Homo sapiens: one gene and its partners. The protein of the gene in region 3 interacts with the protein of the main gene of each other region in a pairwise test. Each region holds a gene or a part of one and is shown on either strand. Other genes may lie near its edges.

The links.
Region 1: the proteins of NDUFS5 (region 3) and SPATS1 interact in binary tests that used the Homo sapiens proteins (3 or more experiments, as listed by UniProt).
Region 2: the proteins of NDUFS5 (region 3) and SGSM1 interact in binary tests that used the Homo sapiens proteins (3 or more experiments, as listed by UniProt).

The regions. Positions count from the first base shown.
Region 1 is NC_000006.12:44,340,422-44,344,171, reverse strand, and holds the start of SPATS1 (spermatogenesis-associated serine-rich protein 1), read right to left. Parts: upstream 1,523-3,750; 5' UTR 1,404-1,522; intron 1,077-1,403; coding exon 938-1,076; intron 1-937.
Region 2 is NC_000022.11:24,921,194-24,924,943, forward strand, and holds part of SGSM1 (small G protein signaling modulator 1), read left to right. Parts: intron 1-2,992; coding exon 2,993-3,081; 3' UTR 3,082-3,750. UniProt on the Homo sapiens protein: Interacts with numerous Rab family members, functioning as Rab effector for some, and as GTPase activator for others. Promotes GTP hydrolysis by RAB34 and RAB36.
Region 3 is NC_000001.11:39,024,486-39,028,235, forward strand, and holds the start of NDUFS5 (NADH dehydrogenase [ubiquinone] iron-sulfur protein 5), read left to right. Parts: upstream 1-1,864; 5' UTR 1,865-1,917; intron 1,918-3,750. UniProt on the Homo sapiens protein: Accessory subunit of the mitochondrial membrane respiratory chain NADH dehydrogenase (Complex I), that is believed not to be involved in catalysis. Complex I functions in the transfer of electrons from NADH to the respiratory chain.

The DNA of each region.
Region 1 (3,750 bases), on a different chromosome or scaffold from region 3:
CTTTACCCCAAACTGGAAACTGCAGGAAGGTCTGGAGCTTAAAGTTAGAATCCCAGAACCCTTTTCTCCTTGCTGTTGCAGACACACTTGGACAATTAATAGCTCTAACTCCTCCAGCTCCTCCTTCTCTACGGTCCTAGCTTATATTAATAGCTGGGTGGAATGAGTTGTACCTCCCTCCTTTCTCCCCACTGTGAAGGAGAATGAGGAGATCACACACCCAGAATACAGAAGACCAGGGAGAAAGCTAAGATCTGATCCCGCAAAGTCTGGATATTTCACAACCCCTTTTTGCAGCACTCAGGCCACTCACCCATAACAGGTAAATGAGAACTTGAGCGCAGGCGCACTCTGAGCTTTTCTGGGAGACTGTGGCTGTTCAGCGCCATGACACTGTTCTCCAAAGGCAAACGTGCCCCCAAATACCCTCCTCGGCCTTAACCAATTATGGAGCTACCAGCCATTATTTAATTTTTAGAGTGTTCATAATTCTCACCTGAACTGTCCCATCCAATAAACAATGACACAAACCTACTAATATCTGAGCAAAGGAAAGATGAAAGGACACAGGCTCGAAAGTATGGCAGACTCATGTCAAATCCCAGGCTCATGTCAAATCCCAGGCTCACCTTTTATTAACCCAAGCACTGGGCAGGTCAAATCTCTGGCTCCCTTTACTCATAGGTAATATACTTCTCCACTGCTGTGAGATCCAGTGAGGTAATTTATGAGACTCTCTGCTTTGGTGGTGCTCTCTGCCTAATCAAATCTTGGGTTAGCACAAACATAAGCTACTATTCAAGCAGCTCTTTTTACATGCCCCCAAACTAGCTTCCTTCTAAACTTCAAATGGTGCCCCCCACCTGCCCCCGCCCCCGGGTGTAGTATACTTGGATGTGGCCACCAACTCCACAGCCTGGATTTCTTAGAACTCAACTGTAGGTCCTCTCCACCTCGGTCATGCCAGAGTCCCTTTTTTCTGGAACCTTCTCCAGCTGTCTGCCGCAGGTCGTGCTTGAGATGGAGGGGAGACGGCAGCCCCGTGGACTGTTTCCAGTGAGCATGGATGGACTCATCTGTGCCCATGATGATTTTAAATATTAGAAGCAACCCAGAGACAAAGAAAGTCCCTCGTAAGAAAGGTATCAGTCAAAACAAACAAATTCCACAAGCCACCGAAAGTCAGGAGGGCAGGACTGGCCTCTAAACGGGAGCCTTACTCCCTCCACCTGGGCGTTTCGTGGTTTGGAAGCCCTGGGAGCCCCAGCGAGTCCGCCCCCAGCCCGAACCAGGCTCGCTGCAGCCCCCATCCAGCTCAAGGTGCTCCTTCTTTTCCACCTCGGGGTCTTCCCACCCCCTTCCCCAGGGGAGGCCCGGGTCTGTGCTCAGAGGCCTCCACGGACCAACGAACCAACTGGCAACTGAACTGCCGAACGCACGCCGCACGCCGAGGCCTGAGAACCGAGAGCCTAGGGCAAAAGGGACACCGCAGCCGCCTGCTTCTCCCACAGAGGCGCGTTCCGGGGTTGCCGGGACACCGGCTCCAGTAACGCGGCGCGCAGCGTCCTGCCTGGCTCGGCTGCCGGCCCCCCTGTCTGTCACCCCCCGGCTCTCTGGCCATTGGTACAGGATGGAGGCTCCTGAGAGGTACGGAGCAAGGAGCTCCAGCCATGGCCCGGCGTCACAGGCAAGGACCGCTGCAAAAGCCACTTTGTGATTTTGGACTTTTTTTTTTTTTTTAAGAGTTGTGGTTCTTTTCCAGGCAATTTTCATTATTAGAACTGTAGGCTCTGGTAGCAGTGAAAGATGCGCCCTCCACAAAGCTTGCAGATGCCTGGTTATAATTGGCGTTGATTAGACAGGATCCACCTACCACTTACAGAGCGCCTTTTCTGGGCCAGGCGCCCTGGTGGATATTATCTTCCTTAAACAGCCAGCTGCGTTTTTCAAAATAGAAAACCAAATTTTAGCAAAGGCTTGCGCAAGGTCACCCAGAAAACAGATTCATTTCTAAGTTTCCTCATTCCAAATCCACCACTCTTTCCATCATATTGACTTAAATTTGTCTTCCTCATCCTTTCCAGTATCTAATAAATCTTGCATAGAAAGCTTTTCTCCAAGTCTAGTTTAAGTCCCTAAATTCGTGTTTAGACCAAGTTTTCCCTTCTTTTGTTACTGATTATAAGAGAAATAAATGGTCATTATAGAAATATTGGAAAATATGGAAAAGTATTATTAATATCCATGATCTCACCATACAGAAGTTAAATACTTTTTTCCTGGATAGCTATTGCTATATAACAAATCACCCTCAAACTCTGTTGTTTTAAACAACAACATTCATTTTTAATTTCTGATCCTGGTCGTTGGCTAGGCTAAGCTAGGCTGTTCATGCTTGGGGTCTCTCACAGGGTCTCAGTCAGAGGTCACAGAGGAGCTTCCTCACTCATGTGTCTGGTGATTGATGCTGGTTGTCAGTTGAGGTCAGCAGGGTTAGCGCCAGTTCACCCATGTGTGGCGTTTCCATGTGCTTTCTCACACCAGTGTCTGAGTTTCCAACGTGAGCATCCCAGGAGGACCAGGCAGAAGTTGTATTGCCTCCATAGTCACAAATGCATGGAGAGGGAACTTAGATCACACCTCTCCATCATGGTCATACTGTATGAAGAGCACAGGGGACAGGGGATCTTGTGGCCCTCCTAGAAAATACAATCTCCCCTACTGATATTTAGGGGTTATTCCTTGTCCTTTTTCTATGCACATGTATGTCATATACCCCTAGTGATTTACACCCCTGCTGATATTTAGGGGCTCCTTCCTCTCTACCCTTTTTCTGTGCACAAATATGTTAACATATTATAGATAGATAGATAGATAGATAGATAGATAGATAGATAGATAGATATAGATATAGATATCTCTTGTATTGGGCTTTTAAAATTTAAGATTATAGTTGATGGCTGGGGCTGTGGCTCACGCCCATAATCCCATAATCCCAGCACTTTGGGAGGCCGAGGTGGGTGGATCACTTGAGATCAGGAGTTCAAGACCAGCCTGGCCGTCATGATGAAACCCGTCTCTACTAAAAATACAAAAAAAAAAAAATTAGCCAGGCGTGGTGGCAGGCACCTGTAATCCCAGTTATTTGGGGTGCTGAAGGAGAACTGCTTGAACCCGGGGGGCAGAGGTTGCAGTGAACTGAGATCATGCCACTGCACTCCATCCTGGACAAGAGAGTGAGACTCCATCTCAAAAAAAAAAAAAAAAAGTTGGCCCTCCATATCTGAGGGTTTTGGATCCACAGATATGACCAACTACAGATTAAAAATATTCAAAAAATATATAAAAATTTAAAATAATACAGATAAAAACAGCAAAGTATAGCAACAATTTACATAGCATTTACATTGCTTTAGGTATTATAAATAATCTAGGGATGATTTGAAGTACCGTACAGGAGGATTTGCATAAGTTATATGCAAATACTATGCCATTTTGTAAAAGGGACTTGAACATCCTTGATATGCTCAAGATTTTGGTGTGGGAGGGGAGTCCTAGAACAAATCCCCCAGGGATACAGAAGGATGGCTGCATATCCTGAGCATTTCCCCTTATTGAAGTTAAAAAAACATGTTATCTCTTTATCCCACGGTAGGAGAGGTAACAGTTATTTAATAGAAATGTTAGCTGGGCAACAGCATAGTTAGTTATTAATGGCTTGACTCAAGAGGCTGCCTCACCAGGAAGGCA
Region 2 (3,750 bases), on a different chromosome or scaffold from region 3:
GGTTCAAGTGATTCTCCCGCCTCAGCCTCCTGAGTAGCTGGGATTACAGACACGCACCACCACGCCCGGCTAATTTTTATATTTTTAGTAGAGACAGAGTTTTGCCATGTTGGCCAGGCTAGTCTAGAACTCCTGACCTCAGGCGATCCGTCTGCCTTGGCCTCCCAAAGTGCTGGGATTATAGGTGTGAGCCACTGTGCCCAGCCAGTCATTTTTTAAAACTACAAAATATATCTCAAGTGACTATTCTATAACTTACTGAACCATTTCTTATCATTAGCATGTAGGTTATTTTCAGTTTGAAGGTGTGATCGAGAGTCCAAAGCAATTCATCTGTTAGCATAAAGATTCCCAAATTTTCTCAATTCATGCACCCCTAGTGTCTCTGTAAAATTATAACAGCACCCCAGGCCAAAAGTTTCATTTAGTAAGTAGTTAAGTCCAAACCGCTTAATAAGTATTTATATCCTAACAATTTAGAAGCCATTGAAAAAATAATACATATGTATCTTTTTTTTTTTTTGAGATGGAATTTCACTCTTGTTGCCCAGGCTGGAGTACAATGGCATGATCTCAGCTCACTACAACCTCCGCCTCCTGGGTTCAAGTGATTCTCCTGCCTCAGCCTCCTGAGTAGCTGGGATTACAGGCATGCACAACCACAAAATACTAATTTTGTATTTTTTTAGTAGAGACAGGGTTTCTCCATGTTGGTCAGGCTGGTCTCAGACTCCCAACCTCAGGTGATCTGCCCACCTCAGCTTCCCAAAGTACTGGGATTACAGGTGTGAACCACCGTGCCTAGCCAATAATACATATATATCTAAAGAAAATAACATTTTTACATCATTCCCGAATAAGCACAATTGCTAATGGGGTGTATGCACCCATTGGGCTTTGCATACCTTCTCAAGCCTTGGAATCAGATTGGACACCACCTCTTTTGTTTTCTATTCCATATTGATTTTCACATGGCACTTACTTTCTTTTTTTTTTTTTTTTTTTTTGTGATGGCGTCTCGCTCTGTCACCCAGGTTGGAGTGCAGTAGCCAATCCAGCTCACTGCAAGCTCCACCTGTGGGATTCACGCCATTCTCCTGCCTCAGCTTCCTGAATAGCTGCAACTGCAGGCGCCCGCCACCACACCTGGCTAATTTTTTGTATTTTTAGTAGAGATGGGGTTTCACCGTGTTAGCCAGGATGGTCTCGATCTCTTGACCTCGTGATCCGCCCACCTCGGCCTCCCAAAGATCTGGGATTACAGGCATGAGCCACTGTGCCCGGCCTTTTTTTTTTTTTTGAGACGGAGTCTTGCTCTGTCACCCAGGCTGGAGTGCAGTGGCGCGATCTCGACTCACTGCAAGCTCTGCCTCCCAGGTTCATGCCATTCTCCTGCCTTAGCCTCCCAAGTAGCTGGGACTACAGGCATCCACCACCACACCCAGCTAATTTTTTTGTATTTTTAGTAGAGATGGGGTTTCACCATGTTAGCCAGGATGGTCTCGATCTCCTGACCTCATGATCCACCCGCCTCGGCCTCCCAAAGTTCTGGGATTACAGGCGTGAGCCACCGGGCCTGGCCCATGGCACTTACTTTCTGTTGCAGCAGCTGCTGAAAACCTAGCTTTGCAAAGACAAAGTCATTGATGGGACCCTGGGTACAGTGGCTTACGCCTATAATCTCAGCACTTGGGCAGGCCAAGGTGGGTGGATTGCTTGAGGTCAGGAGTTCCAGACCATTCTGGCCAACATGGCAAAACTTTGTCTCTACTAAAAATACAAAAATTAGCCCAGCGTGATGGTGCATACCTGTAATCCCAGCTACTCAGGAGGTTGGGATTAGAGGAGGCATGAGAATCACTTGAGCTTGGGAGGTGGAGGTTATAGTGAGTCGAGATCACACCACACCACACTCCACCCTGGGCAACAGAGTGAGACCTTGTCTCAAAAGAAAAAAAAAGAAGAAAGTTATTGATGGGAGTGTAGTGAAATTTGTGAACTCACTCCAGCTAACAGTTGACATGGTGCTCAACTTAGATGGAGTATTCCCACGCTTCCCTCGAAATACCCAAATACTCCACAGTGCCCCTGCAAATCACTATGACACGCTGGGGTACCTTGGTACCCAGTTTGGGAACCATGTCTTAGTTTTAGTGTTTTTCTTTTTTTTCTTTCTACTAAATGGTTTATTTATGATAAATGTCTACGTTTAGGATTATTTGGCTTAGAAGTCTGACCACATTGTGTGGCTCTTGATAAAATTATTTTTTTCTTTGGTTTTTTTGTCCCTTTCTCCTCTTCCTTCTCCATCTTTCCTCCCTCTGTTGCTTCCTCCTTTTCATATCTTTCAGCGTCTACTGTGTGCCCAGCACTGCTCTCAGTCATTCTGTTTATAGGAGAGGGGTGGAAGGACTTCACCTTTTCATTTTTATTTTTATTTTTTTTTGAGACGGAGTTTCGCTCTTGTTGCCCAGGCTGGAGTGCAGTGGTGCAATCTCGGCTCACCACAAGCTCCGCCTCCTGGGTTCAAGCGATTCTTCTGCCTCAGCCTCCTGAGTAGCTGGGATTACAGGCATGCGCCACCACACCCGACTAGTTTTGTATTTTTAGTAGAGACAGGGTTTCTCCATGTTAGTCAGGCTGGTCTCAAACTCCCGACCTCAGGTGATCCACCTGCCTCGGCCTCCCAAGGTGCTGGGATTACAGCCATGAGCCACCATGCCCGGCCGACCTCACCTTTTTATGGCACATCCTGTGAACCAGCATTATCCCATTCAATCCGCACAGTAACTTGGTGAGGTGGCTGCTGTTCCAATCCCCATTTTACAGATGAGGAAACTAAGGTCCAGAGGTAGAGGCCTTCTCCAGGGCCTCTGCTTCCTGAGTCAATCTGTGATGGAGATGCCCCCAGAGAAGCCTCCAGGGGCTGGAATTGTACCCTAAGACTGGACACAGAAGGAGGCTCATGAGATTTTTCTTTCTGCTCTTTCAGAAATGGCTGAGCGACACAACACCAAGCAAGTCCTGAAGCTGGCGCGGGACCTCGTGTACAAGGTGCAGACTCTGATTGAGAACAAGTGAGGGGCACCTCACCCCGGCAGCCTCAGCCAAGCTGCCCCTGCCCCGCTCCTCTGCTTACTTTTCCTCCTGGCTGGATGGGCACCCCGGGAGCGGGGTCCTGGTGTCTGTTCACAAGCGTGGAGTTCAGTGCGCAAAGAAACTACCCTGACTTTTACTTCTGGGCAGATGGGGTGGAGGGAGTACCCCTTCAATTCAGCCTTACATTTTCCTGTTTGACCAAAGATTGCCCAAGTCTGGCGTTCCTCCCTTGCAGGAGGTGGAGGTTGTTGGTGGAGGAGGAGCCATCTTTGTTTGCTGGTGCCCGGAATGGTCTCCTCTTCTTCTTTCCCTATCCCTCCAAACTGTCTTGTAAGATGAGACCTGGGGAGGAAACTTCTTTTTGGAAATTGGTGTAGAAGAGGTGTGTGGGGCTACCTCTATGCTCCTCTGCAAGGGGCCTTTGGCGATGTTCTGGACATGGCTGAAGATTGACTTAGAGATTGACCCTCCACCTCGACATTACTGACATTTGGGGCCAGGTGATTCTTTTTGAGGGGACTGTCCCCTGCATTGTAGGATGCTGAGCAGCATCCCGGGCCTCACCAGATGCCAGTAGTGCCATCCCCCAACCATACCCCTGGTTGTGACAGCCCCCAAAAATGTCTCTAGACATTGCGAAATGTTCCCTGC
Region 3 (3,750 bases):
GCAGTGAGCCAAGATTGCACCACTGCATTTCAGCCTGGTGACAGAGTGAAGCTCTGTCTCAAAAAAAAAAAAAAAAAAAGAATTAGCTGGGCACAGTGGCATGTCTGTAGTCCCAGCTACTTGGGAGGCTAAGCAGGAGGATTGCTTGAGCCCTGGAGTTTGAGGCTGCAGTGATCTATGATAGCACTACTGCACTCCAGCCTGGGTGATGGAGTGAGACCCTATCTCAAATAAAATAATAATTATAATAAAGACTGCCAGGCACATGGTGGCATGCACATGTGGTCCCAGCTATTTGGGAGGCTGAGGTGGGAGGATCACCAGAGCCCAGGGAGGTTGAGGCTGCAGTGAACTGTGATTGCACCACTGCACTCCAGCGGGGCAATGGGAGTGAGAATCTGTCTCAAAAGTAATAATTATATATATATATATTTATATATATATATATATATATATATATATATATATATATATATATGTTCTAGTATTTTCCTCCCATACCTCCAATGTATAATATCTCATGCACCCTGTGGTCCACCCCCCAAAGACATACACACAACACTTTAGAGTCTCTGATGTAGTCAAAGGGAGTCATTGGAGGTTCTGGAACAGATGACAGGCATGGTAGCAGTTGATTCACAAACTGAAAGCTGAGACATCAAAGAACTGCGACTGCCTTGGAATGTTTCCCATGTGCTAGCCACCGCCTCAGTGCTTTATACATAAATCAGTTAATCCCTATAGCAAGCCTCCATTGTGAATACCATAATTATCTTAACAGACGAGGAGACTGAGGCACAATGAAGTTAAGAAACTTTCCTAGAGTCACACGAAATTGGTGGGGGCCTACTTTTTTTTTTTTTTTTTTTTTTTTTTTTTTTTTTTTTTGAGACTGAATCTAGCTCTGTCGCCAGGCTGGAGTCCAGTGGCGCGATCTCACCTCACTGCAACCTCCGCCTCCCGGATTCAAGCGATTCTCCTGCCTCGGCCTCCCCCCACTAGCTGGGATTACAGGCACTCGCTGCCACACCCAGCTAATTTTTGTATTTTTAGTAGAGACAGGGTTTCACCATATTGGCCAGGATGGTCTCGATCTCCTGAGCTTGTGATCCGCCCACCTCGGCCTCCCATAGTGCTGGGATTACAGGCCTGAGCCACTGCGCCCGGCTGGGGGCCTACATTTGACCCCACGTGGTGGTTTGGGCTCATAGTCCATGTGCTTAACCACTAGTGGGTAGGCAGGGAGCCAGTGTTCTTTCTCTCCTGTGACTTTGGTGAAGTCTCTCACCACTCAGTGTTGTCGTGAGCATGCTAGGCAGAGTGCAAGAAAGGAGCAAGAACTCACTAATGGCTAGGCCTTCCCTGTGTCTCTGTAATTGATGGGTTTGGGTTTTTTTTCCTTTCTCTCTCTCTACCTCCTCTCTCTCTTCTTCATCCTCTCTCTCTCACTCTCCCCCTGAGATAAGGTCTTGCTCTGTTGCCAGGGCTGGAATGCAATGGAATGGTGTGATCATGGCTCACTACAGCCTCAATCTCCTGGGCTCAAGGGATCCTCCCACCTCAACCTCCTGAGTAGCTGGAACCACAGGCATGCACCACCTCGCCCGGCTAATTTTTTATTTTTTGTAGAGAGGGGAGTTTCGCCATGTTGCCCAGGCTGTTTTCGAACTCCTGGGCTGAAGTGATCTTCCTCCCTCAGCCTTCCAAGGTGCTGGGATTGCAGACGTCAGCCACCGTACCAGGCCAACGGGCTCGGTTTCTATGGTTTTGTGGGGAGACGGCTGAGGGAAGGTCGGCTTCCGGCGTCGCGCTGCAAACGTCTCGCTGAGGTCATCCTTTACGGCAGGCGTCCGCGTCGCTAGCTAGTCGTTCTGAAGCGGCGGCCAGAGAAGAGTCAAGGGCACGAGCATCGGGTAGGTAGGGGCTGCTTATGTCCGCGCGGCAGCTTAGCTTAAGGACCTTCCTTCCGAGGTCTCTTTAACAGATTTCCTCTTGGCTTGCTGTGTGTCCCCTTCTCCCAGACCTGAACTCAGGGCGTGTTCCCTGCCCTCCCAGGCCGCTTCACCTCCACAGCTAATGGCACCGAAGCCTGGAGATTGCCGCTCTCTCCACTTTCCACATTTGTTTAGGTTTTTGCCGGACTAATGTTTTGGCTTTCTGTTTCTTAACCTAAAGTCTACGATCCTTATCCCAGCTTTCCAGGCTCTGCGTGATTTCGGCCCCGCCGGCCTCCTGAGCTCATTTCATTCTTTTCACCGTCATGCACGCTGCGCTCCATTGTCCCCCAAACATAGCCAGCACTTCCGGCTGTAACTCCGGGCTGTTGCCCAACTGGAACACTCTGCCCACTGATCTTCACTTGGCGAACTCGCAAGCCATGTTAAAGGCATTTTCAAGTCTCCGGGCAGAGTTCGTGCTTCCTCCTTCGAGCTCTTACCCACTCGTGTTCCTTGCAGTGTATTCGCAATTCCGAGTGTGTGTCTCTGGTGCTTACGTTGGAGCTGCTTTCCCCCGCATCTGAGTGCCTGGAACGTAACTACTCAGTAAATGATGACTGAGGGATGGGAAGGAACTTAAGAAGTTAAATTCACCTTTTTGTTGAGATGGAGTTTCGCTCTTGTTGCCCAGGCTGGAGTGCAGAGTGGCGCGATCTCGGCTCACTGCAGCCTCTGCCTCCCGGATTCAAGCGATTCTCCTCCCTGAGACTCCCGAGTAGCTGGGATTACAGGCATGCGCCCCCACGCCCGGCTAATTTTGTATTTTTTTAGTAGAGAGAGGGTTTCGCCATGTTGGTCAGGCTGGTCTTGAACTCGCGGCCTCAGGTGATCCGCCCGCCTCGGCCTCCCAAGGTGCTGGAATTACAGGCGTGAGCCACTGCGCCCAACTAAATTCACCTTTAAATCTACCATGAGTACACATTTATATTGATATTTGTGGGTGTGCGCGCGCTTCCTTTCAGTCATTTTAGGCAGTCAGGGTTTGTTTTTGTGTGTGTGTTTTTACATTTAACATTATTATGTATTTGCATGTAAATTTTTTTCCCTACTGTCTGTAATAGTCTACAAAGTAAGTCTTAACCCATTTCTTTCGCTCTGGTTTTTTTTTTTTTTTGAGACAGGATCTCGCTTTGTTGCCCAGGATGGAGTGCAGTGGCCAGGTCATAGCTCACTGAAGCCTTGAACTCCTGGCCTCAGTCTCCTGCCTCAGCCTTAGGAGTAGCTGGGACTACAGGCGCACATACCACCACAAGTGCCTTTTTTTTTTTTTTTTTTTTTTTTTGAGACAGAGAACCTGACCAAAGGATCCAAATTCTTTTTTTCTTCTTCTTCTTTTTTTTTTTTTTTTTTTTTTGAGACAGAGTCTCGCTCTGTCGCCCAGGCTGGAGTACAATGGCGGATCTTGGCTTATTGCAACCTCTGTCTCCCCAGTTCAAGCAGTTCTCCTGTCTCAGCCTCCCGAATAGTTGGGATTACAGGCATGTGCCAACACGCCCAGCTAATTTTTTTGTATTTTTAGTAGAGACGGGATTTCACCATATTGGCCAGGCTGGTCTTGAACTCCTGACCTCAGGTAATCCACCCGCCTTGGCCTCCCAAAGTTCTGGGATTACAGGCATGAGCCACCGCGCCTGGCCCACAAGTGGCTGATTTAAAAAAAAAATTTAGGCCAGGTGCAGTGGCTCACACCTGTAATCCCAGCACTTTGGGAGGCCAAGGCGGGCGGATCACCTGAGGTCAGGAGTTCAAGACC